2 separate regions of the Homo sapiens genome follow, and region 2 is linked to region 1. Evidence: fine-mapped expression QTL. Tissue or cell type: esophagus muscle. Region 1 holds a variant in brackets; the other region holds the start of a gene. All regions are shown on one strand. Distances are from middle to middle. Region 1 has its middle 160 kb from the start of PPP1R3A. Region 2 holds the start of PPP1R3A (protein phosphatase 1 regulatory subunit 3A).

What was found. PIP is the estimated chance that this variant, and not a neighbour inherited with it, causes the effect. A credible set is the group of variants that fine-mapping cannot tell apart.
Region 2: PPP1R3A starts here. The variant in region 1 is the best candidate, but not a certain one, in a credible set for the expression of PPP1R3A in esophagus muscle (GTEx, PIP 0.82).

The regions. Positions count from the first base shown.
Region 1 is chr7:114,074,386-114,077,311 of GRCh38, reverse strand. No RefSeq gene overlaps it. Among named protein-coding and RNA genes, the nearest start is that of PPP1R3A, 160 kb to the right of the region's middle. The variant C/T (reference allele first, on the strand shown) is at 1,277.
Region 2 is chr7:113,917,802-113,920,727 of GRCh38, reverse strand. It overlaps PPP1R3A (protein phosphatase 1 regulatory subunit 3A), which reads left to right and starts at 1,719. Exons shown (of 4, transcript NM_002711.4): 1 at 1,719-2,513. The coding sequence starts at 1,732.

The DNA.
Region 1 (2,926 bases):
CCTTCAGCCCACGGCTGCCCTGTGGGAGCCCCTTTCTGGGCTGGCCAAGGCCGGAGCCGGCTCCCTCAGCTTGCAGGGAGGTGTGGAGGGAGAGGCGCGAGCGGGAACCGGGGCTGCGCGCGGCGCTTGCGGGCCAGCTGGAGTTCCGGTGGGCCTGGGCTTGGCGGGCCCCGCACTCGGAGCAGCCAGCCGGCCCTGCCGGCCCGGGGCAATGAGGGGCTTAGCACTCAGGTCAGCGGCTGCGGAGGGTGTACTGGGTCCCCCAGCAGTGCCAGCCCACCGGCGCTGCGCTTGATTTCTCGCCGGGCCTTAGCTGCCTTCCCGGCGGGCAGGGCTCGGGACCGCCATGCCTGAGCCTCCCACCCCCTCCGTGGGCTCCTGTGCGGCCAGAGCCTCCCCGACGAGCGCCGCTTCCTGCTCCACGGCGCCCAGTCCTATCGACCACCCAAGGGCTGAGGAGTGCGGGCACACGGCGCGGGACTGGCAGGCAGCTCCACCTACAGCCCCGGTGCCGTATCCACTGGGAGAAGCCAGCTGGGCTCCTGAGTCTGGTGGGACCTTGGAGAACCTTTATATCTAGCTCAGGGATTGTAAATACACCAATCGGCACTCTGTATCTAGCTCAAGGTTTGTAAACACACCAATCAGTACCCTGTGTCTAGCTCAGGGTTTGTGAATGCACCAATCGACACTCTGTATCTAGCTACTCTGGTGGGGCCTTGGAGAACCTTTATGTCCACACTCTGTATCTAGCTAATCTGGTGGGGACGTGGAGAACCTTTGTGTCTAGCTCAGGGATTGTAAACACACCGATCAGTGCCCTGTCAAAACAGACCACTCGGCTCTACCAATCCGCAGGATGTGGGTGGGGCCAGATAAGAGAATAAAAGCAGGCTGCCCCAACCAGCAGTGGCAACTTGCTGGGGTCCCCTTCCACGGTGTGGAAGCTTTGTTCTCTCGCTCTTTACAATAAATCTTGCTACTGCTCACTCTTTGGGTCCACACTGCCTTTATGAGCTGTAACACTCACCCTGAAGGTCTGCAGCTTCACTCCTGAAGCCAGCAAGACCATGAGCCCACCGAGAAGAACGAACAACTCCAGACGCGCCGCCTAAAGAGCTGTAACGCTCACTGCGAAGGTCTGCAGCTTCACTCCTGAGCCAGGGAGACCACGAACCCACCAGAAGGAAGAAACTCCGAACACATCTGAACATCAGAAGGAACAAACTCCGGACACGCAGCCTTTAAGAACTGTAACACTCACCGCGAGGGTCCG[C/T]GGCTTCATTCTTGACGTCAGTGAGACCAAGAACCCACCAATTCCAGGCACAATAGTTCCAGGCTCTGTTATTGTGGCTAATAATATAAGGCCTAGGTGACAGTATGGCACTTCTGAGTTTAAGTTATGAAAGATGGTGGCTTTCATTTAGGTCTCTGGATCTCTCTCTCTATCACTTTATCTGCCAAGCTGCTGTGTTTTAAGCAGCCCTCTAGAGAGACTTTTATGGTAAGGAAGTATAGTATTATACTATCTGGCCAATAGCCAGAGAAGAATTGAGATCTCCCAACAACCATGTGACTGAACTTGGAAGCAGACCCTTCTTTCCCAGCTGAATCTTCTTGAGATGTCTGGAGCCCTGGCTAACAGCTTAATAACCTCAAGAGAGAATCTGGGCAAGAACGACTCAGGTAAGCCATTCCTGGATACCTGACCCTTGAAACTATGAACTAATAAATATTTGTTGATTTAAAGCTGATAAATTTGAGGTTAGTTGTTACACAGCAATAGATAGCGAAAGCAACCATGATAAGAAAAGTTATATTTAAGTTGTAGAATTTCAGGTTTCTTTTAGAATTACCTCCAATCAATATCCTCTAGTAAAACTGGATTTATCTTAAGCGTAGTACAAACATTAAAGATAAAATTACATTTCAGTCTTTACTTTTTATTTTATTTACTGAAAAGAGTGGTATTGCACATTCTGTAATATAAGCAAATAGCGTTTCTACATATGATAAGTACATTTCATTAACTAGCAGGGTATTTGAATACCATTTACAACATTGTTTCTGAAAAAATGCATTCCAAGTTTTGGGCTTGCTATATAATCCATTTTTACTTGTCAACTTCCTATATATGTCTATCAAAAAAATAATATAGAAAAAAACATTTTAGGCTTTGATTACCTTGACAGGATAACTGTCAGTCTTGTCTTAGGTAAATGAGTAAAAACAATCTATAAACTGAGAAAGACTACTTTCCTAGTTCATATTTAAACATAAGAAACAATCATTGTCTCCTGAGATTTTTCTAATTAGGTTATAGCACAGTTACAGTAGTTCAATGGAGAATGTCAAGGCAAGTTCTAAATTAGTTTAGCAAAAATTAACAAATCAATAAATTTTTAAACTCAAATTACAATAAACATACTAAGACAATGGGTTGCCTAATCTGTTAATAAATATGCTTCTGTCTTCATAATATATTATAAAAACAAAAAATAATTTTATGCCTAGATAATTTTTTGAAAAGTTTAAGTCGTGGAAAGCCATAGAAAGCCATTTATGGATCCTGATCATATTGATTATGTAATCAATTTTAATAATAGCAAGATTGTCTTGTGATTTAAACAAACTAGTAAAGTTAAATAGGCATATAAAATAATTTCCATAACAGGAATATACAATGTGAGCACATTATTTAGTTATTTTGATAATATTCATAGGGTAACTATGAATGGCAAGTACATTGTTGAGTTTACTTCAAGACTATTATACAGAATATTATTAGTGCTTTTATGATCATAAATATAGTTCCTGTCATAAGAATATATGATGTGCATTAGATAAATTTCTGCTAAAGCGCGATTTCATTTCCGTAGCCAAAGAGTCTTACATTTTCTGACTTTTTTTTTGAAGTTAAAAAAAT
Region 2 (2,926 bases), 160 kb after region 1:
TGTGGATGAGATAAAGCTCAAATAATTTCATTTCTTTATCCTTCTAGACACTAGTCACTTATAATTTTAGAAAATAATTTCTCCATCCACTACTTTATGCAATTCAAATTACCTAATAAGTTATACCATATTAATGAGGTTTTCATTTGAAAGAAATTATGCTATTGGGCTCTTTATAAAAAGAAAAACTAATCACCTTTCACACTTCGTATATTTTTTCAGTTTAATTAATAGATATTTTGAAAGAAAACCATGCTCATGTATAATATTTCAAACAGTACAGCAGACCATAAAGTAAAATGAATAGAGCCCCCATTCCTCTGCCATCTTTAAATTCTGTGGTTAGAAGTAAATACTGCTAACATTGTCTTTTGTATCCTTTCAGGAGTTTTCTATGTACATATCTGTACACATTTTCTTTTTTATCACTTAGCCATTTATCTTGGTTATCTTTCCATATTAGCACATAAAGTGCTACTTTATCCTTCTAAAACATTCTATTGTATGGGTTATTTATCCAATGCTCTTTCGAGAGGGACATTTAACAGGTTTGTAGAGACTGTTAAACGCACAATTCTGTTATGAACATAGATCTCTATTTATCTTTGTATACTTTCCCATACTGACAGAGCAAATTTCTAGCTGGGGCATTTCTCGGTCAAATTGTGTGCAGTTAAATTTTTATAGGTTTTTACCAAAATGACCATCCCCCAACTTGGGTTTTATGACATAAAAAAAACGTGACAGTTTAAGCAGGCTGTTCATACTTTAAAACTCATATTGAATTTCAAGGTGTGATGGTATCAACTTCTGCTTTGTGGGCATAAAATGGCCATTTGCAAAAGAACATTTTATTCTACGTAGATGTATTAGTCCTGGATCAGGCTTACCTTTGCCCACTTATATTTGTAAATCAATAACATGTCTTATCTGTATTTTCCCATGGCTTAATTAAAATAAATGTACTAATGTTTAAAATAATGAATTTGATTACTTCTTTGTTCTAGGCTTTTGCTTGGGTTATTTCTTCTACCTGGACAATCTGCCTTGCTCCAACCTTGCATGTCTAAATTCCACCTACCCTTCATGCTTTATTTAAAATGATACCTTCCCCATCTGAATCATGTTTCCTTCCTCAGAACTTTCAGCACCTCTATTTAACCCTTTTGTAATAAAGCTATACATTTATAAATCCCTGAAAATGATAGCTGTCATTATTAGTAGGCTCTGGATCTCTTCAGTTCTATAAATGTTCTTATCTTTCCCTGTTTGCACTTACCTGCTCCATGGATTAATTTAGTCCAAACTACATATTCAGTATTGTGATACTACTTTTATTTTATTTAAAAAAAATCCACATTTTCATTTTTAACATCAACTAATTAAAATAATATTTTTATCCTAAAGTTCCAGGATTTCCAATACAGCAGAACATGATTTAAAAATATCTGTTTGGAACTTAGCTCATAAACAAATACAGCTTTAAAAACTGCCAGTTAAATCTGAAACATACTGGTGGGAGTAGCATGGATGCTATCATATGCAAGGCCTTTAGGGGGAGGCTAGCAGGGTTGCAGGCTAGCATAGTTGACACGCCATTGGACCTATTTATAGAGCTGAGTTCTTTTTGCAATGTCAACTGTAACATTATACCTATTTTAAGCCTCAGTATCTCAAATGTCAGCCTCTACTAGTCGTACAGTTCTCTCTTATTTGATATCAGAGAGCCCAATGGAGCCTTCTGAAGTACCTAGTCAGATTAGCAAAGATAATTTTTTAGAAGTTCCTAATTTATCTGACTCTCTTTGTGAAGATGAAGAAGTTACTTTCCAACCTGGTTTCTCCCCTCAACCAAGTAGACGAGGTTCTGATTCTTCTGAAGACATATACCTGGATACCCCATCTTCAGGTACTAGAAGAGTTTCATTTGCTGATTCCTTTGGATTCAATCTTGTGTCTGTTAAAGAATTTGATTGCTGGGAATTACCGAGTGCTTCAACCACTTTTGACTTAGGGACGGACATTTTCCACACAGAAGAATATGTTTTAGCCCCACTGTTTGACTTGCCTTCTTCAAAAGAAGATCTTATGCAACAACTCCAAATACAGAAAGCAATACTGGAGTCAACTGAGTCTCTTCTTGGGTCTACAAGTATCAAGGGTATTATTCGAGTTTTGAATGTTTCTTTTGAGAAGTTAGTATATGTAAGAATGTCTTTAGATGACTGGCAGACACATTATGACATTTTAGCAGAATATGTTCCTAATTCATGTGATGGTGAAACTGACCAGTTCTCCTTTAAGATTGTATTGGTTCCTCCTTATCAAAAAGATGGCAGTAAAGTTGAGTTTTGTATACGTTATGAAACTTCTGTTGGTACATTTTGGTCAAATAATAATGGCACAAATTATACATTCATTTGTCAAAAGAAAGAACAAGAGCCGGAGCCTGTAAAACCATGGAAAGAAGTTCCTAACAGACAAATAAAAGGCTGCTTAAAGGTAAAATCAAGGTGAGGATATATCTTACATATTTTATTATTCACAATCTTAAAGTTTTTATGTCATTCTTTATTTCATGTGTTGTAAGAAAGTGACTCTATTTAAAAATATACTGCTTGCTATGTAAAAAACAATGGTGCCAGGCTTTAACAAGGTCAAAGCTATTCAAATAATAGCACTGTGTAACCCTTTCTACAAATGTGAGAAAAAATATGGCTGTAATGCAATAGGTTGGGAGAGAAGTGCACTGTGTATATTACTTGCCTAATGAGTTATAAATTATTCCTGCTCAAACCATGAAATCTAGATTATTCACATATAAAATTATTTACTTTGACATTTAAAGTACTTTTATTTTCAGTCGTTTTTAAATGTCTATGCTTTCCTTTGAAACAGTTTTGATTAACATAAAACTATATTTCAA